Regions from separate parts of the Homo sapiens genome. Here region 2 is linked to region 1. Evidence: fine-mapped expression QTL. A gene starts in region 1. The other region holds a variant in brackets. All regions are shown on one strand. Distances are from middle to middle. Region 1 holds the start of EFEMP1 (EGF containing fibulin extracellular matrix protein 1). Region 2 has its middle 93 kb from the start of PNPT1.

Evidence for each region. PIP is the estimated chance that this variant, and not a neighbour inherited with it, causes the effect.
Region 2: its variant is fine-mapped to the expression of EFEMP1 in cerebellum (GTEx, PIP above 0.99).

What each region holds. Positions count from the first base shown.
Region 1 is chr2:55,919,310-55,930,203 of GRCh38, forward strand. It overlaps EFEMP1 (EGF containing fibulin extracellular matrix protein 1), which reads right to left and starts at 4,473. Exons shown (of 12, transcript NM_001039348.3): 1 at 4,402-4,473; 2 at 3,590-3,630; 3 at 3,051-3,138. The coding sequence starts at 3,131. RefSeq lists an enhancer at 4,033-4,532.
Region 2 is chr2:55,781,397-55,792,290 of GRCh38, forward strand. No RefSeq gene overlaps it. Among named protein-coding and RNA genes, the nearest start is that of PNPT1, 93 kb to the left of the region's middle. The variant GAAAC/G (reference allele first, on the strand shown) is at 4,961.

The DNA of each region.
Region 1 (10,894 bases):
TATTGTGTCTAAGGATCATTCAGGGTTCTTGTTAAAATGAAGATTCCTGGGCCCACCCAAAGGATTTGATTCTGTAGGTCTGGGTAGGGGGCCTGGAATCTAAATTCTTAGCAAGTATCCCAGGCGATTCCCATACAGGTTGTCTAGGAACTACTTCTTGAGAAATGTTGCTACAGGCGATAAGAGGCCTCTGAAGAATTTTTAAGCTCAGGAAACAATCTGATCAGACGCTCATTTGAGAAAGTCACTGTAAGGAAGAAGCCCAAGGAAGGATTGAGCAAAAGTGGAGTAAACAAACAAATAAACTTAAATTCTTTTAATATAACTGAGAGCTGCTTATGTACACAATGGATGCTTGACAAGGAAATAGCTGAATGGAAGCCCAGAGATCCATTTAGATATTTTACTGATGTCTGAAACTTACTGGAGCGAGAACTAAATTCACTTTGTCTCTCAGACTAATTTTTTTCTTGTTTCCCAAACAGTGTTAAAGGTACCACTACCTTTTTCGAAACCCAGGATTCCAACTTTAACATCAGTGCTGAATGCTCCACTTATTTTCCTTCCATCTCTGCTGACTTTGTGTCCATTTCTACCATGTCTACTAAGAAAGGCTTTTGCTGGCCCATGAGTAGGCAAGGCCCCGCATCTCTACATGCTGCATACAGACCCCATGATCTTTCTTGTGCTCTTGGTTATGTTGCTCCTCTCTCTGAGACCTCACAGTGACCTGCAGATCTCTCATCATCACCATCTCTGGGTTCTTCCCACTACCCAGTTCCAGCTGATCTGACCTTATCACCACCTGGATTGGTCTCAGGTGCTTTCAGCTCTAGCTTTTGATTATGCCACTCTCTGACTCAGGTGCCTCTTCAGCCTTTCTAGATCAATCCAACCAAGGTCATCACTTCCTTCAAGAACCAGCACAGAGTTCTGTCTCCTCTAATATGCTGGCACCAACATTAATCACCTCCTTGCTTTTCTATTTCCTTGGCAATTTGTATAATCTGTATAATAGTATCATTTGTCCTTGCTTAGGAACTTTGTAGTTTTCAACACTGTCTTCCCAGGCTAAATTCTCCAAGAGGAGACTGAATTTTCTTAGTAAACAAACAAATTCTTTTAATAGTGATGAGAATTGCTTATGCAGATAGTTGTTGAGTAAACAGCTGAATGGACACCATCTTTAATATGGAAGAGGACTATGAGGCTATTATGTGGATACGAGCCCATTCTTCTGAAAAGTATCTTTCAAGCCAGGCAAAAATGGCAGTTCACTTGAATAATTTGTATGGTAAATAGAGAAGACTTGCAATTTGTTTTAGGTATTTACTTCTAGACATTTAATGTCAGTGTACTATTAAGTAAGCCTAGACTGAGTTTAGCTTCACCACTTGGCTATGTAGCCCTAAGCAAGTTAGACACTCTCTCTGATCTTCAGTTCTACCATTAGTGGAAGGAAGATGATGCCACTTACCTTACACATTGCCGCAAGGATCAAAGGAGATCGTGTCTCCACAGCGGGATACTCAGAAATAGTTATTATCTTGTCCTTTAACCATGAATTATTAGGCATACAAAATTTAAAGGAGAATAGGCCCAATCTTAGCACAAAAGGGTAACATATCTGGAAAATTTGTTACAATAATAATGAACCCTAGTTAGTGGTCTTAAAACTATCATGTTTAAGCCACAGGGAACCTTCTCTGGTAAAAATGAGGAAGATTTAGGTGATTAGCAAAGGGAAGGGCATAGAAGATAAGCAACTGGAAAAGAAGTAAAATCTTTTATGAGATGATTATAAAAGTGGGTAGTGAATTTAATTTTAGCTCCCTGAGAAGGCAGTAAGTTTAGTCTGAATAACAAAACATTTTCATTTTAAGATAAACAGCACATGCCTTCATTTTTCTTGCTTAATTTATCTTCAGCAGAGGAAGCAACTGCATTTAACATGAAGTTAACAAAATATTTGTATTAAGCTATTTTATTTATAGTGGATCTGAACAACAGAAAGGAACATTTGCCAGATGAATACTAACATTCTAGGGATAATGTGGTACCAAAAAGTGAGATAATGTTTATTATCAGTAATTGACATTAGTTCATTTTTAAGAGTTTTCTTTTCAAAAATTTTTCACATTCTTTCGAGTAGGATTACTTAATTTTAAACTGGGAGCAGTAGAAAAATGTGCTTTTCATATTCCAATCCAGGACAAATGTCATTTGCCTAACACTGATTAAAGACAAGAAAACACAGAACAGAGGTGCAAACAAACTCACCAGAAGTGAAGTCAGTACTGTCCTTCTCTGTTCTCACCACAACTATTTGTAGCAGTGGGAGGGGTCAGGTGATCTTTTTAATATTTTATTAAACATTGGTTACACCTATGCAACTAACTAATCAAATATTACTTGGAAATATCAGAGACGCTAATTAGAAAATGCAAAACGGAGTTGCACACATTACGTTTTAAAACCACTTTAGCCAATATGCATCCTGGTAACACATAAACTGTTGTCTGCCTTTATTTATTAGAATTATCAAGTTATACAAAAAGAATGAATATATAGCCTTTATAAATTCAATAAAGGCCACTTACTTGAGAATGCATGTCATGTACACAAAGAAGGCCATGTGTCTTTATGGTGTTTAACGTTCTTACTTGACTTGAGTCTTATTCTGCACGTATTGGTTTTATCTGCATGTGGTAGGAGTCCAGGTTTTCCAGTTCCTTACACCCATTAATTTGTTGAATGTTTTGGAAACATGTAACTTTCTTTGGTTTTAGTTTTTGAACGGATCCCATTTTTAGCCCTGCACAAATGATTACATGTTGGTTCCTATCTTAGGTGGTGAGCCCAATGAACTTTTGAAAGGATCAAGGGGGCAATTTACAACGAATCTTAGATATGAAGCATGAATGAAGTGTTGTTTAATTTATCACCCTCAGCAGAGTATAGCCCAAATACACTGGCAGGGGTGTGTAAAGTCTTTTTTTGTCACAGAATCCCGCTGAACCGTACTTATTTCAAATTCCATCACCCCTTACCGTGTACGTGATGGTTTCTTCGGTGTCCTGTGACTTGACCAGCGCCAGAGTCAGCATAGTTAGGAAAAGGGCTTTCAACATTGTGAATCTCAAAGAAAATACAGGACAAACTAATGTTTAGTATCTGCTGCGGGGAAAGTAACAAAACTTTAGCAGTGAGCACAAGCGAGGAAAGGAGGGTGGGAGAGGCTGAGGCTCCACCATACTCAACTTCCAATCTGCTTTCTCATCTCCCCTCCCCCTCCTGAACCTTCTCGGTAGCCAACGAACGAGGCAGCAAAGACGTAAAAACTGCTGTAGAATTGCATTTCACGTTACTCCATCCTGCTACGCTGTTTACATACAAAAGACATTCAGCGTGCATTTTATACTGCACCTACAAAGCAGGCTGCAGAAAGAGGGGGTCGAAAGGAAAAAACAGTAATCCATTTCAAAGGGGACGGTGCATTTCCTGCCCCCCAGTCCCACACCCCGGGGGATGGAGGTGGGGCTGCAAAACTCTGTTCTCTAGAACGTTAAGGCTTTCCCAGTATACTCACCTTGAGCTAGCAGAGTTCCTTGCACAGCACAGCAAAAATACCTGTGAGCCAATATGAATTGCCTTGGCCTCAAGCTTTTTATTTTTTAAACAAAATAACAAAACAAAACTCGGAGAGCAATCTTCCAGTTCTAGTAGAATACTAGACCTTCTCACATGTCTCAGAGCTTCTCACATCCCCCAGCACAAACTCTCAAAGTGGCATTTCCACGCCTTTCTCTGCGCACAGCTTTGTTTAAAAGTCCCAGGTTGTGTGGAGGGGCAGCCCAAAGCGACTGATTCTCTTTTGTCTTATCAGTCTGGGTCCCCGACACGCTACCTTCGGTTTCAGGCTGCCTAGGACCGGAACCAGGGATCGCACCGCAGCCCAAGGTACCAGTTTCGGGCGGGCGGCCTGGCCCGGCAGGGAGATGAGGTCCCCTTTCTTAACAGCAAGCTAACGCGGCGGTCCCCTGGAGCTGCTCAGCGTCCCAGCTTCTAACCAGCTCCTATGGAATCCAGGTGCGGCTTAAATCTCGCACACTGGTCCCCTAAACTTTCAAAACCACGTTTATGGGCAAAGCCCTGCCGGCTGGTTGTCGGCGCGCACACACATGCCCATCCCAACAGATGTCACCCGAGTACTCGCACTTGCTGACAGATCGCATTCCGAGGCTGCACACCTCCACCTCCCTCTCTGCCCGAGACACCCTGCACAGTCCAGGGCAGTTCTCGGGTACTCAACACCCCTCAGCTCACCCCACCTCACTCTCCCGCGCGCGGCCCAGTGAGTACTGGGCTCGCTCGGGGCGACCCCCCGTTGGGGGCTCCTACCTGTGCGGCCGCGCTGCGCTCCGGGCCCGGGCAGCGAGGGGAGTGCGCAGGGGAGGGCAGCCCCGTGGGTCTGATCTGGCGAAGTCCGGCAGCGGCCGCGGCGGCAGGAGGAGGAGGAGAAAGGGAGGGAAAGGGGGAGGGCGAAGGGGGGCGGAGGAGAGAGCTGAGGGAGGCGCGAGCGCTGAGCCCAGCGTTGCGAGCCCGGCGGTAGAGCGCGCAGCGCAGCGAGGTCCGCGCCCCCTGCTCCAGGGGCCCTCTTTGCCGCCCCCGCTTGCCCTCCCTTGCCAGCTCCTCGTTTCCCAGACTCGCGGGGACCCCACGCCAGAGAGGACACGTTGACATGTGATGTCCTGGATGCGCTTCAGCCTTGGGGATGCTCCCACTCTCTAGTGCGTTTTCTTCTTCTCTGAGGAGGGGAACACAGCATCTCCCTCAGAGACCAGAGGGTTCTAGAAACTGCTGTTACTTTTTTTCCCAATAAGTGAATGCTAGGAGAGTAAATTAACCCCCATTCATAGAACTGTTTCCTTTACCTTTTCTTTCGGATTTTTTTTTTTTTTTGAGGAGGTGTCTGCTTCCACAAATGGAGAAAAATGAGAATTCATCCATTCAACAAATATTTGCCACCTACTGTGTGCTTAGTGTTGGGAATAGGCCAAATAGAACTTGCACTAACAAAATTGTGAGGTGGGGTTTGTTTTATGGTCTCTCAAACCTCCCTTTATGATAACAAGTGTTGGCAAGAATGGAGAAAAGGGAATGCTTGTATGCTGTTGGTGGAATGTAAATTAGTACAAACATGATGGAAAATTGTATGGAGGTTTCTCAAAAAACTGAAAGTAGAATTATCATATGATCCAGCAATCTCATTTCTGGGTATTTACTGGGAAGATTTGAAATCAGTGTGTTGAAGAGACGTCTGTACTTTCATGTTTATTGCAGCACTATTCACAATTGCCAAGATATGGAATCAACCTAAGTGTCCATCAAGGGATAAATGGATAAAGAAAATGTGGCATATATGTGTGTGTGTATACAAATATAATATATATTATATATATAAACACATATATATATAAAATATGTACACACATATATTTTAGATATATATGCGTTTTTAAGGCTAAATAGTATTCCATTGTGTGTGTGTGTGTGCGCGCGTGCATGTGTATATGAGCCCATTCTTCTGAAAAGTATCTTTCAAGCCAGGCAAAAATGGCAGTTCACTTGAATAATTTGTATGGTAAATAGAGAAGACTTACAGTTTGTTTTAGATATTTACTCCTAGACATTTAATGTTAGTGTACTATCAAGTAAGCCTAGACTGAGTTTAGCTTCACCACTTGGCTATGTAGCCCTAAGCAAGTTAGACACTCTCTTTGATCTTCAGTTCTACCATTAATAGAAGGAAGATGATGCCACTTACCTTACACATTGCTGCAAGGATCAAAGGAGATCGTGTCTCCACAGCGGGATACTCAAAAATAGTTATTATCTTGTCCTTTAACCATGAATTATTAGGCATACAAAATTTAAAAGAGAATAGTATTCCATTTTATGTGTCTGTGTGTATGTGTGGAATACTATTTAGCCTTAAAAAAGAAATTCTGTCATTTGTGACACCATGGATGGAAGTGGAAAACATTATGCACAGTGAAATAAGCCAAATGTAGAAACACAAATACCACATGTTCTCAAGTATCTGAAAGTAACTTAAAACAATTGAACTCATAGAAGCAGAGAGTAGAATGGTGGTTACCAGAGGCTAGGGTTGCAGGGAATGGAGAGATAACAGTCAAAGAGTGTAAGCCTCAATTAGATAGGATGAATAAGGGTTGGGTGCAGTGGCTCATGCCTGTAATCCCAGCACTTTGGGCAGCCAAGGTGGGCAGATCACCTGAGGTCAGGAGTTCAAGACCAGCCTGGCCAACATGGAGAAACCCCATCTCTACTAAAAATACAAAAATTAGACACGTGCCTGTAATCCCAGCTACTCGGGAGGCTGAGGCAGGATGATCGCTTGAACCCCGGAAGGCAGAGGTTGCAGTGAGCTGAGATCATCCCTCTGAGTGACAGAGTGAGACTCCATCTAAAAAAAAAAGAGAGGAAAAGTTTGATTTTTTTAAAGTTCAATTGCACGGTGTCGTGAATAAAGCTGATAATTGAGTACTGTATATTTCATTATCACTAAGAGAGTAAATTTCAAATGTTCTCATCACAAAAAATGTCAAATATTTGAGGTGATGGATATATTAATTAGCTTGGTTTAATTATTACACATTGTATTAAAAAATCATAACACCTTGTACCCTATTAATATATACAACTATAATTTGTCAATATATAATAAAAAGTCTCCCTTTTTATGGGTTTCTTTTTTCATCTATAGCTTCTCTTTTCTTCACTTATTGACTTAGTGAAATCTCCAATACTGCTCATTCAAAGTTGGGCATTTCACTTTCACCTTTCATAGTGGAATTTCAGGAATCTGGAGAGAAAAATCTTTTTTTCTGTTTTTATCAAATCATACCACACAAATTGCAGTTACCTCTGAAGGCTCCAACTCTAAAGTCATACTAATAGCTTGCTTCCAAGGCAGCTGTCTTCTAAGAAGCAAATGGCCAAATACAATTTCATGAATGAGAAAACTTACAAACTGAAGGGGTTAAAACTTTGACTCTGTCCTTGAGCAGGAGGCAGAGCTCAGGAGGAGAGGAAAAGCTCCTTTCCTTTCCTGCTGACTCAAGGTGGGAGGGTGGTAGCGACTGCAGGAGAGGGAGGTTATCAGGTGGAAGCTGCTCTCTTTATCTCTGGGGTATCCAGTGTGGGTTACCTAGACATTGCCAGTTTGGTAGCAAGCCACACAGTATTGGACAAGATCAGAGGGGAGGTGTACAACCCTCCCTAAACCTTACTTGAGTATACAGAGTTTTGGTAATTGTATCAAATATTTTTACTATCAAAATTCTAGTGTTTTCCCCCAAGTCATTAATGACCTCCAGATTTTTTTTAAATGGATCTTTACTTTTTGTACAGTAAGAAGATCTGTGCACATGGTTTTTCCTGTTTCTCTTAAACTCTTTCTACCTGTTCCCAGCCACTTTTCCAGAAAAATGGGGTGAAAACTCTCAAATTTATATCTCCAGCCTGGAACTGTTCCTATATATCCAGCTGCCAACTTGCTATCTTCATTTGGACATCTAATGGATGTTTCAAACTGAACACAACTGCTGTTATCATCCCCCAACCTACTCCACCCACCTTCACCATCTCAGTTAAAGCAGTTTCATCTTTCTATTTGCTCAGATTCAGGACCATGGAGTCATCCTTGATTTCTCTTTTTCTGAGATATCCTGCATTCTATCCTTCAGGAAATTCTGTTGGCTTCACCTTCATGATATATCCAGAATGGAACCACTTCTCATCACCTCTTTTGCAACCACTCTGGTCTAAGCCACCACCATTTTCCAACTGTATTATTGCAACATCCTCCTAATTGGTCTCCTTGTTTACAACCTTGTTCTCCTGCAGCCTTTTTGCAGTGGGAGTTCATATGAATGAAATCATAGAGTAAATACTCTTTCGGGTCTGACTTCCTTCACTCAGCATGTTGCTTGAGATGCATCCTTGTTATTAGGTGTATGAGAAACACATTCCTTTTTATTGCTGAGTAGTATTCCATTGTATGTATATACCCTGATTTGTTTGTTTACATCTTAATAGATACTTGGATTGTTTATGAATAAATCTGTTACGGACATTCACTTCTAAGTCTTTGCTGGGATATGTTTTCTTTTAGATAAACGCTTAGGAGTGAAATTGCTGTCATATGGTAGGGGTATGTTTAACAGTATAAGAAAGTGTCAAACTGTTTTATAAAGTGAGTGTGTTATTTTATGTTCTTACCAGCAATATGTGAGATTCAATTTGCCTGAAATCCTTGCCAACTTCTGGTATTGTCAGTAATTTACAATGTTAGCCATTCTGGTGGGTGTGTAAGTGGTATTTCACTGTGGTTTTATTTTACATTTCTCTGATGTCCAGTGATGTTGAATTTTGCTTTTCGTATGCTTATTGTCCATCAATATATTTTATTTCAAATTTGTGTTCATTTCTTTATTTTTTGGTCTTATTAGTTGTAAGAGTTTTTAAAAATAGTCTTCCTGCAAGTCCTCTTCAGATTTACATTTTTCGAACATTCTTTCTAGTCTTTGTCTTGTCTTTCCAATTTGTTAATGCTGTCTCTTGAGAGCAAACATTTTAAATTTTGATAATTTTTTTTTTTTTTTTTTGAAATGGAGTCTCCCTCTGTCACCCAGGCTGGAGTGCAGTGGCACTATCTTGGCTCAGTGCAACCTCCGCCTCCTGGGCTCAAGCAATTCTTCTGCCTCAGCCTCCTGAGTAGCTGGGAATACAGGCGCACACCACCACACCTGGCTAATTTTTGTATTTTTAGTGGAGACAGGATTTCACCATGTTGGGCAGGATGGTCTCGATCTCCTGACCTTGTGATCCACCTGCCTCGGCATCCCAAAGTGCTGGGATTACAGGCGGGAGCCACTGCACCCTGCTGGATGATTTATTTAATGGAGTCCAACTTTATGGATTCAAACTGGATGCATGGATTTAGCAGAATGCAAGTGGAAATTGCAGTAAATTCACCTTCCTAAAATTGCTCTGAGCTCAGAGGAATCTGAGATTTTAAAGATTTGGGCTGGGCACGGTGGTTCACACTTGTAATCCCAGCATTTTGGGAGGCTGAGGCAGGTGATTCACTTAAGGCCAGGAGTTCAAAACCAGCCTGGTCAACACAGCAAAACCCCTTCTCTACTAAAAATACAAAAATTAGCTGGGCATGGTGGTGCGCGCCTGTAATTCCAGCTACTCAGGAGGTTGCAGTGAGCCAAGATCACGCCACTGCACTCCAGCCTGGGTGACGGAGCAAGACTGTTTCAAAAAAAAAAAAGGAAGATTTGAAGATGTATGTGGTGACAAACTCATAATTTTAGAAGAGATTCACAGATGTTGATGATCACACACTGAGCACTATGATCTATGTCTCTGTATCCTTTGGAATGTGTGTCTTAATCAAACATGTACTATCAGTGTGGCTGAGTCTTAAGAGTGCTTAATCAAAGTGTAGAGTAACTGTGTTCAACGGGGACCCACAGTGGGCATCCCTGGCATGCTAGAGACCAAGATATGAATCACAGAATTAGCCCACAGTTTCTGGCCATGTATCCAAACCAGGCAACATTTGGGTCCACTTGATTTGTGAAAGTATATTCTCCTAGGAAACTGCTGAAGGAGAAGCCAAGGCTGGAACCAGAATTGATGGAAAAAACCCTCTCCTTCTTACAGAAAGAATTCATTTAAAAACACTAGTATTCTTACTGAATTGATAAAAATGGATCATTCACTACTGATAGCCCTATAATGGACTCTTGCAAGAATAATGTTGATTAAATTATTTATTTTCTTGGACTGCTTTCTTATTGATGCATAAAAATTCAGTATTTTTGAATAGCAGAATTTACATTATCCATGAAAATATTCCCATGATGAATACACATTTGGATTTCTGATATGCTTTATATTACTGAAACAAGTCTTTGAAAGAGATGGTTTTTAATTTTTTTTCTAGGGCTAAAATTCTTTGTTTCTATGTTGTCTTTTTGTCAATGATTTGGAGTTTGCATCAGGCCAAGAGAAGACATGAACTTAGGCAAGTCTTCAACAGATGCTAAGTCTTTTCTTTAAAAAATCCACATTACACATAAGCAATTTTAAATTTGTACATAGAAGATAATGTGTAGTTATTAAATTGATTGCTAAAATATGCCCCAAACATTCACTCATGTGACTGGTGGCCTGCGCATTAGAAGAGGACTCATTGAAATATATGGAGGTTGGATTGCAGCTTTGGCCTCAAAGAATATTGGCAAATTTGCATTTACGCAACATTAATTTGCCTCAAGTATGTCACTGGTGAGTTCTTTGTTTTAGTGAGTGCCAGATGTATTCTTCTTCAGAATATACTTGGTGAAACTCTCTTTCTGAATGCCAAACGGACATGAGAAAACTTTCAGTCATCTGGAGCTTGTAAATTGTTCTAAAATTTTTGGAATTTTATTGAAGGCTTGATTTCATCATAAAGCAGAGAATACCTTGGAAGAATAAAAAGCAAATCAATCAGAAATGATTGGAACCAGTAATTAGAATTTCCTTGGAGAGAGAAAAATGTATGATGTAAATCTACTGCCTTGCAAAAAAGATTGCTTTCTAACAAGTTATCAGATCTTACAGAGCAACTTCAGATGCGAACACAGATGTGAAGCTGTTTTTTTTTTAATTGTTGTTTTCAGCTACAAGTTCCCAACTCTCTCCTTTCAAACTTAGATATCCGGAAACTTCATTTGGCTAATCAAGGCTGATGGGGTTTCAGGATGATTGTATTATGGAGCATGAAATTAGAAATAATACCCATGAAAAT
Region 2 (10,894 bases), 140 kb before region 1:
AATAAATTATATAAGGGCCCATTGCAGTAGAGGCAAGGGTGGGAAATGTGCACACTGCAAGGAGCGACTCACATGTGATACTGAAAATCATTGGTGATGCCCTCAGCCTCAGCCTGAAAAGGTATGGACACAAATGAACAGATTAGCAACCCAGCTTACACTGATGTGGTTTCTTGAACCTCAGCAATAATCTTTCCTCTTGGAAGTGACCCACTGGACAATGCAGAAGGTGGCCAGGGAATGTATTTGCAATCAGGCTCTGCCCTGGACTCATTTTACCCTCTTCATTTCTGTTCCGCCACTGAAGCTGCTGAGTACAGATGCTGTCATTTTACACTAGGGGTCCTCTTTTTCCATCATCTCTTCTAGACATTCAGAGGATTAATAGTGAGTCAGATAAAATCTTTTGAGGAACCTGCTAGTTTATAAATGAAAAAGAATTAAAACTATCTCTAATAGTTTGCATTCCTACAGCACTTTATAATTATCAAGTATTTTTGAAATTACAAATTTAATGTACAATACATATAACATAAAAGTTACCACTTTAACCATTTTTAAGCATATAGTTCAGTAGTATGAAGTACATTCACATTGTTGGCAACCATCACCACCATCCATCTCTAGAACTCTTATTGTCTTACCAAATTGTAACTTTGTACCCATTAAGCAAATCTACCAAGTGTTTTCTTACACATTATTTCATGTGCTCTTCTTGATATCCCTGAAAGTGGGAGGGAAGATATTATTAGCTCAGTAGAGCACAGTGGTTAGTGGGGCAGGCGCTGGAATAAGACTAGCTGGTTTAAACCTTGATCATCAAGTATTGTTAACAATAGAACCTATCTTGCCAGGTTGTTGTGAGGATTACATGAGATCATTCATAAGGTGTTTAGAACATAGCTATAATCATCCCCATTTCGCAGATAAGAAAAGTAAGACTAAGAGACCTTGAACATTTGCCAAAACTCACAGAATTAAGAAATGCTAGCCGGGTGTGGTGGCTCATGCCTGTAATCCCAGCACTTTGGGAGGCTGAGGTGGGCAGATTACGAGGTCAGAAGTTGGAGACCAGCCTGGCCAACATAGTGAAACCCTGTCTCTACTAAAAATACAAAAATTAGCTGGGCCTGGGGGCCTGCGCCTGTAGTCCCAGCTACTCAGGAGGCTAAGGCAGGAGAATCACTTGAACATGGGAGGCAGAGGTTGTGCTGAGCCGAGATACCACTGCACTCCAGCCTGGGCAACAGAGCAAGACACTGTCTCAAAAAAAAAAAAAAAAAAAAGCAAGTGGGAACCTGAATTGTGGTTGATTCAGTGTTCTTTCCTTTATACCCGTTAATAATTAATTAAGTCCCTGCTCAATACTGCCCACAGAAACACTTTTGTGTTCCTCAAAAACATGTAAAAATCTAGATTTTAGGCTAGCAAAAGGAGGCGATTTCACTTAAATATGTTTTGTGTTTTTGACTTCAGAGTCAAGGCCTTGCAAATTTCCTTATCAACCCTGACATCCCTTGGGAGGTGCTGACAGCACTGACCTCAAGGCATGTTGTGAACCCAGGAGAGCATGAGCTGGGGATGGGGAGATTACAGGAAGGTAGATGAAGTCAAGCAGGAGTGACAGAAATTTGGTCCAGCTCCAAGCTGGTATTGGAGGGCCAAGGGGAGCCTCCTTCAGGAGGATTGGCATAGGAAATAATTTTAAATTGCAGAATAGAAATGCTGATGGAACAAGGCAAAGCAGGCTTATGCCAGGATGAGGAATAGGGTAGGATCCAGGCCCAAGGCATAAGTTTGCAGAGATGTGTGTGTGTGTGTGTATGTGTGTATGTATGTATGTATGTATGTATGTGTGTGTACCTGATCAGGTACCTGGGATATAAGGCAGGAGTCTCTCCTCACCCTCCTGCCCCTCTCTTTATACTAGTGTCTGGGGATTTGAGAAAAACAGAGGAACTTCTCCACCATTACCAGAGGCTGGGTAGAAGGGGGCAGAAAGGTGATCTGATCGCTCTCTAGTTCAGAGGTTGGTGAGGATGAGAAAGAAAGGCTGCTTTTGATAGCCTTTTGAAATGCCCAAGCTTTGGCTCTGAGGCATTAGAGTTCTACCAATTATTTCCAAATTCCTAGGGTTTAGGTATTTAAAGCTCTTGGTCAGGGATTACAGGAATGAAGTGGGGTGGTGTTTATATAGCTGAATGCTCCCTCCAGAGCTGGGATGAGGCTAGGACAGGAGAGGAGATGACACAGGTAAGACTTGCAAGGTGAACTACATATTTCCCTACCCATGTCTCATTGTTTTCCCTCAGAAATCATCTTCATAAACTACTTCTTTCTTTTTCACTTTCTTTCTTTCTTTTTTTTTTGAGAGGGTGTCTAGCTCTGTCACCCAGGCTGGAGTACAGTGGCGTGATCTCCACTCACTGCAACCTCCGCCTCCCAGGTTCAAGCAATTCTCTCTGCCTCAGCCTCTCAAGTAGCTGGGATTACAGGTGCCTGCCATCATGCCTGGCTAGTTTTTGTATTTTTAGTAAAGATGGTGTTTCTCCATGTTGGCCAGGCTTGTCTTGAACTTCTGACCTCAGGTGATCCTCTTGCCTCGGCCTGCCAAAGTTCTGGGATTACAGGCGTGAGCCACAGGGCCCGGCCTACCTCCTTTTTTCTGTAGTATTAACCTGTTTTTCTCTGTGGCACATTTATTTTTGCATATAAGCATGTTCAATATTCTCAAATAATATGAAACAAACAAAGTCAACAAAATAACCCCTCATCCTTGGCTCCCCATCTTCTTTAAAGTTGCTGTTCATTATTCTTTTCTCCTGTATGGTCACACTTCTTGAAAGAGTTGTCTCCATTTTCCAGTGCCCTTCCTCACTTCTGAGTCTCACCTCAGTCCACTATAACCTAGCCTCTCACCTTCCCCTCCATTGAAACTGCTACTGCAAATTGCAAATGTTCTCCACAATCCCAAATTTCATGGCCGTTTTTCTCTTTTTTTGATGATAATGACCGGGCTTCTGTTTTTCACTACTCTATCCTCATTACCCACTAGCACATGCCTGGCACATAGTTGGTGCTCAATAAATATTTTTTGAATTGAATTGATCTCTCTGTGGTGTGTGACACTTTACCACTGAAGGGGATTAGACTATGCCAACCCAAAATATGCCAGTTTGGCACAGGGATCATTTTCAGCTGAAGAAAATGGAGAATCAACAGATGCAAAATGAAGTCCTTCTAGAGTTCCCATTATCTGACTAAAAGCAGAAACTTCTGAGAACTGAGGATTGCCATAAATCCCCTTTCTTGGGCAAATTTTATGACTGTGAGGAAGACGGCAAGTTGGCACCAAGATGGACCTGCACAAACAAAGCTTGATAAGATAGCCCTTATTTTCCATTAGTTTTCTCTATATATTTACCTCCCCAGTTTGCAGCCCTTAGAAGCCTAAAAACTTTCTTCCTTTGTCTTGTGCCATCTCTGCAATTTATCTTTCTTGTTGTTGTTAAAAACGGTATATAAACTCTCGTCTGAGAGAGTTTGCTTCTTCGTTCTTCACTTTTTTGGTAGGAAGATCCCTGTGTCATATAAAAGCTACGCATCAAATACAATTCATATGCTTTTGCTCTCCTGTTTGTCTGTCTTTCACCAGTTTAATTTGTAAATAAGTTGGGCATGGTGGCACGTAGAGATGGGGTTTCACCACATTGGCCAGGCTGATCTCGAACTCCTGACCTCAAGTGATCTACCTGCCTCACCCTCCCAAAGTGCTGGGATTACAGGCATGAGCCACTGTGTCGGGCCTCTCAGGCTTCTTTTTAATCTCTTCCCTTGGCTTGTTCCCTAAAGGTCAGTAGACTACAGGGTCTGTTTTCTGACCTCTGCTTTTCTCAGTCTGTAGACTTTCTCTGGATAATCGGATCAAAAGCCATGGCTTCAACTATCTGCTCTGAGATCATTATCTTCCAAATCTATATCTGCAGCTCAGACCCTATAGTCCAATTACGTGATAGAAATCTCCAGTTCGATGCCTGCCATGTACCTCAAACTGAACATATTCAGAACTGAACTCATCATCTGCCCCCCTCAACCTGCTCCCCTTGTAAGTGATGGCTCAGTGAATAACACCCACCATGCACCCAGTTGTCCAAATCAGAAACCTGCAGCTGTGTTTCCTTCTCCCTCATCTCTCACATCCAGTAAGTCATGGAATCCTGACAATTGTGCCTCCTTAATGGCTCTCAGACCCATCTCTTTTTCTCTAACACCACTGCCATTTCCCAAGTCCAGGCCACCATTGTCTCTCCTCTCCATTATTGCACTGGCCTCCTCACTGCTCTCCTTGGTATCTGGCCTTCCTCAGCCTCATTGCCTCTTCTCCATCCTTCTTGGCATGAATAACTCCTAGTCATTCCTCAAGTGCCACTCAATGTCACTTCAATTGGGAAGCTTCGCTGACTAAGCCCTCCCCACCCATGAACCCCAGGATATATTGAGTGTGTCTGCTATATGTGTTCCAAGCATTTAACTTGTCTTATTATAATTGCTTGTTTAATTGCTTAACTGTACCACCAACCCACTAGATTGTAAATACTCTGTTTTTCCCTGCACCTATTTCTAGCACCTTGCGCAGGGCCTAGATCATATAGTATGTAGTAGCACGCAGCACATGGTAGATACTCAAAAAATATTTGTTGAACGAGTCAAAGAAAATACTCGCTAAACTGAAGAACTACCATTTTGTAGTTCATCTAAAAATAAACAAGGATCAGTGGTTTAGCAAATAAATCTATGGTGTATGTGTGTGTAAACCTCCCACTCTCAGTTCATGTGGTTGATGAACCTCAACTATGTAAGTGAAACCTTATTTTCCAAATAAAAATATTCAATGTGAATGGCAATGTCATAATTTTTGGTGCTCATGGCAACAAACAGCTCAACAAATAAAATAAGCAAA[GAAAC/G]AAAGGTAACAAAACCCCATTTATTCATCCAGATCTTTTCTGTTTAACTCTGCAGTCTTAACAGTTCAATAATTCAACTGCAAATTTGTTAAGATTCATTGCTTTCCAAGTCCATCACATGCTCAGGCTTATTTGCTTGTCTCTTTCTGCTGGGAAACTATTTGTCTGTGGAGTAGCCCAGAAAACAACTTTTTTTTCCATGTTAATTACTCAAAGATTAAGAAAGGTAAAATAAGAGTTATGTAACAGAGGGTTTGTTTTGCTCCTAGGATTACACAGTAATGAACATGCATATTTATCCTTGGGAATGCTTACAATGATATTATCTGAATGATGTATTCTCTTCTTGTATCCCTATGAATAAGGTACTAATTTCCATCTTCCCGTCCGCATTAAATAGTCTGAGCCCTCTTGCACCTGTAATTAAAATTTTGAATTATCTGCTATGTATAGAGCACTGTGAGGATTGCCAGAGCAGTTAGATGTGTCCTATATCCTTGATCCCTTTGGAAGAATGTGACCCAAACCCTCATGAAACACATAGGAGAGGGTATGAGAAGTAATTGTAACTAAAGCCTGTCAGGCCAGAGTTCCTTCCTACTAATCACGAACCGGTGTTTTTGGACTTAATATAATCACTTGGGTTAAACTTGAATACTTAAGTCTAAAGGTGAATGTTGTAAAAAATGAAGAGTTGGGGCAGTTGCTTTTTTTCTACAGTTGTAGTCTCTAGAACTATGGTTGTATAAATATTTTTATAGTATTACAGCATGCACATAAATCTACTTTAAGGAAATAACTTCATTCCTTCCTCCCTTCTTTCTTTCATTTTATAAAAAAATTAATATTTTCCTTTTTTTTAAACATCAAAGTAACGAGTACAAGTTTAAAAAGTCAAATAATGCTAAGAGGCTTACAGCAAAAACCAATATTCTCTTAATCCCTCCACCTCAAATTGCCTCGTCCTTCTGAATACTCCTACCTCCCTCAGGTAAACATTTTCAAAATCTTCACCACTTCTAATATCAAAACACTGTGCGAATACTGCTATTGCCTTTTTAAAGCATTATTTATTTTGGCCTTTTTATAGCTCTTTTCTTGAATCCATTCTTTGTGAAATAGTACCATCATAAATTTTGGTTGAATCTATACTCATCAATTTATTATAACCATTTTGTAGTTAAATATGTACATAGTTTGTATGTGGGAATATATATAATATATGGTTTGTACTGAGTATATATAATTATATATACTATATAGTATGTATATAATTTGTGCTATATGTATTATCTATATAGTTTATACTATATATTTATACTACTTAGTCATAATATGTGCATACAGTTTGTACCATATATATATTATAATATAAACTATGTATAGTTTATACTGTATATACTATGTAAAGTTTAAACAAGCTAAAGCATAGTATATATGTATATGTAGTATATAATTTATGCTATAATTCAATTTCTTATACAATTTCTGTTTTCTTGGAGTTAATAATTTTTTTATTTTTTCACTTGCCTGGTTTTTATATTTTTGGAAACTACAAACTTCTTTGTAAAGTAGTTCTCATTACAGCTTTCTACATGGTAAAATTTGTAAGATAATCTGCACATTCCATTTAGGAGGAGTTTATTCTTACCTTTTGTACTTGTGTTTCGATTAGGATTGGTTGCTTTTTGAACCTGCTACACATGTTTATTAGGTCTTCGCTTTGATACCATCTTGAGAATTCTCTTTATTTTATTTTATTTTATTATTATTATACTTTAAGTTTTAGGGTACATGTGCACAATGTGCAGGTTAGTTACATATGTATACATGTGCCATGCTGGTGTGCTGTACCCACTAACTCGTCATTTAGCATTACATATATCTCCTAATGCTATCCCTCCCCCTTCCCCCACCCCACAACAGGCCCCAGAGTGTGATGTTCCCCTTCCTGTGTCCATGTGTTCTCATTGTTCGATTCCCACCGATGAGTGAGAACATGCGGTGTTTGGTTTTTTGTCCTTGCGATAGTTTGCTGAGAATGATGGTTTCCAGCTTCATCCATGTCCCTACAAAGGACATGAACTCATCCTTTTTTATGGCTGCATAGTATTCCACGGTGTGTATGTGCCACATTTTCTTAATCCAGTCTATCATTGTTAGACATTTGGGTTGGTTCCAAGTCTCTGCTATTGTGAATAGTGCCGCAATAAACATAGGTGTGCATGTGTCTTTATAGCAGCATGATTTATCATCCTTTGGGTATATACCCAGTAATGGGATGGCTGGATCAAATGGTATTTCTAGTTCTAGATCCCTGAGGAATCGCCACACTGTCTTCCACAATGGTTGAACAAGTTTACAGTCCCACCAACAGTGTAAAAGTGTTCCTATTTCTCCACATCCTCTCCAGCACCTGTTGTTTCCTGACTTTTTAATGATCGCCATTCTAACTGGTGTGAGATGGTATCTCATTGTGGTTTTGATTTGCATATCTCTGATGGCCAGTGATGATGAGCATTTTTTCATGTGTTTTTTGGCTGCATAAATGTCTTCTTTTGAGAAGTGTCTGTTCATATCCTTCGCCCACTTTTTGATGGGGTTGTTTTTTTCTTGTCAATTTGTTTGAGTTCATTGTAGATTCTGGATATTAGCCCTTTGTCAGATGAGTAGGTTGCGAAAATTTTCTCCCATTCTGTAGGTTGCCTGTTCACTCTGATGGTAGTTTCTTTTGCTGTGCAGAAGCTCTTTAGTTTAATTAGATCCCATTTGTCAATTTTGGCTTTTGTTGCCATTGCTTTTAGTGTTTTAGACATGAAGTCCTTGCCCATGGCTATGTCCTGAACCTTATTGCCTAGGTTTTCTCCTAGGGTTTTTATGGTTTTAGGTCTAACATGTAAGTCTTTAATCCATCTTGAATTGATTTTTGTATAAGGTGTAAGGAAGGGATCCAGTTTCAGCTTTCTATATATGGCTAGCCAGTTTTCCCAGCACCATTTATTAAATAGGGAATCCTTTCCCCATTGCTTGTTTTTGTCAGGTTTGTGAAAGATTAGATAGTTGTAGATATGTGGCATTATTTCTGATGGCTCTGTTCTGTTATATTGTTCTATGTCTCTGTTTTGGTACCAGTACCATGCTGTTTGGTTACTGTAGCCTTGTAGTATAGTTTGAAGTCAGGTAGCATGATGCCTCCAGCTTTGTTCCTTTGGCTTAGGATTGACTTGGCAATGTGTGCCCTATTTTGGTTCCATATGAACTTTAAAGCAGTTTTTTCCAATTCTGTGAAGAAAGTCATTGGTAGCTTGATGGGGATGGCATTGAATCTATAAATTACCTTGGGCAGTATGGCCATTTTCACAATATTGATTCTTCCTACCCATGAGCACGGAATGTTCTTCCATTTGTTTGTATCCTCTTTTATTTCATTGAGCAGTGGTTTGTAGTTCTCCTTGAAGAGGTCCTTCACATCCCTTGCAAGTTGGATTCCTAGGTATTTTATTCTCTTTGAAGCAATTGTGAATGGGAGTTCACTCATGATTTGGCTCTCTGTTTGTCTGTTATTGGTGTATAAGAATGCTTGTGATTTTTGTACATTGATTTTGTATCCTGAGACTTTGCTGAAGTTGCTTATCAGGTTAAGGAGATTTTGGGCTGAGACAATGGGGTTTTCTAGATATACAATCATGTCATCTGCAAACAGGGACAATTTGACTTCCTCTTTTCCTAACTGAATACCTTTTATTTCCTTCTCCTGCCTGATTGCCCTGGCCAGAACTTCCAACACTATGTTGAATAGGAGTGGTGAGAGAGGGCATCCCTGTCTTGTGCCAGTTTTCAAAGGGAATGCTTCCAGTTTTTGCCCATTCAGTATGATATTGGCTGTGGGTTTGTCATAGATAGCTCTTATTATTTTGAGATACATCCCATCAATACCTAATTTATTGAGAGTTTTTAGCATGAAGGGTTGTTGAATTTTGTCAAAGGCCTTTTCTGCATCTATTGAGATAATCATATGGTTTTTGTTGTTGGTTCTGTTTAAATGCTGGATTACATTTATTGATTTGCATATGTTGAACCAGCCTTGCATCCCAGGGATGAAGCCTACTTGATCAGGGTGGATAAGCTTTTTGATGTGCTGCTGGATTCGGTTTGCCAGTATTTTATTGAGGATTTTTGCATCAATGTTCATCAAGGATATTGGTCTAAAATTCTCTTTTTTGGTTGTGTCTCTGCCCGGCTTTGGTATCAGGAGGATGCTGGCCTCATAAAATGAGTTATGGAGGATTCCCTCTTTTTCTATTGATTGGAATAGTTTCAGAAGGCATGGTCCCAATTTCTCCTTGTACCTCTGGTAGAATTCGGCTGTGAATCCATCTGGTCCTGGACTCTTTTTGGTTGGTAAGCTATTGATTATTGCCACAATTTCAGAGCCTGTTATTGGTCTATTCAGAGATCCAACTTCTTCCTGGTTTAGTCTTGGGAGGGTGTATGTATCGAGGAATTTATCCATTTCTTCTGGATTTTCTGGTTTATTTGCGTAGAGGTGTTTATAGTATTCTCTGATGGTAGTTTGTATTTCTGTGGGATCGGTGGTGATATCCCCTTTGTCATTTTTTATTGCATCTATTTGATTTTTCTCTCTTTTCTTCTTTATTAGTCTTGCTAGTGGTCTATCAATTTTGTTGATCCTTTCAAAAAACCAGCTCCTGGATTCATTAATTTTTCGAAGAGTTTTTTGTGTCTCTATTTCCTTCAGTTCTGCTCTGATTTTAGTTATTTCTTGCCTTCTGCTAGCTTTTGAATGTGTTTGCTCTTGCTTCTCTAGTTCTTTTAATTGTGATGTTAGGGTGTCAATTTTGGATCTTTCCTGCTTTCTCTTGTGGGCATTTAGTGCTATAAATTTCCCTCTACACACTGCTTTGAATGCGTCCCAGAGATTCTGGTATGTTGTGTCTTTGTTCTCGTTGGTTTCAAAGAACATCTTTATTTCTGCCTTCATTTCGTTATGTACCCAGTAGTCATTCAGGAGCAGGTTGTTCAGTTTCCATGCAGTTGCGCGGTTTTGGGTGAGTTTCTTAATCCTGAGTTCTAGTTTGATTGCACTGTGGTCTGAGAGACAGTTTGTTATAATTTCTGTTCTTTTACATTTGCTGAGGAGTACTTTACTTCCAACTATGTGGTCAATTTTGGAATAGGTGTGGTGTGGTGCTGAAAAAAATGTATATTCTGTTGTTTTGGGGTGGAGAGTTCTGTAGATGTCTATTAGGTCTGCTTCATGCAGAGCTGAGTTCAATTCCTGGGTATCCTTGTTAACTTTCTGTCTCATTGATCTGTCTAATGTTGACAGTGGGGTATTAAAGTCTCCCATTATTATTGTGTGGGAGTCTAAGTCTCTTTGTAGGTCACTCAGGACTTGCTTTATGAAACTGGGTTCTCCTGTATTGGGTGCATATATATTTAGGATAGTTAGCTCTTCTTATTGAATTGATCCCTTTACCATTATGTGATGGCCTTCTTTGTCTCTTTTGATCTTTCTTGGTTTAAAGTCTGTTTTATCAGAGACTAGGATTGCAACCCCTGCCTTTTTTTGTTTTCCATTTGCTTGGTAGATCTTCCTCCATCCTTTTATTTTGAGCCTATGTGTGTCTCTGCACATGAGATGGGTTTCCTGAATACAGCACACTGATGGGTCTTGACTCATTATCCAATTTGCCAGTCTGTGTCTTTTAATTGGAGCATTTAGTCCATTTACATTTAAGGTTAATATTGTTATGTGTGAATTTGATCCTGTCATTATGATGTTAGCTGCTTATTTTGCTCATTAGTTGATGCAGTTTCTTCCTAGCCTCGATGGTCTTTACAATTTGGCACGATTTTGCAGTGGCTGGTACCGGTTGTTCGTTTCCATGTTTAGTGCTCCCTTCAGG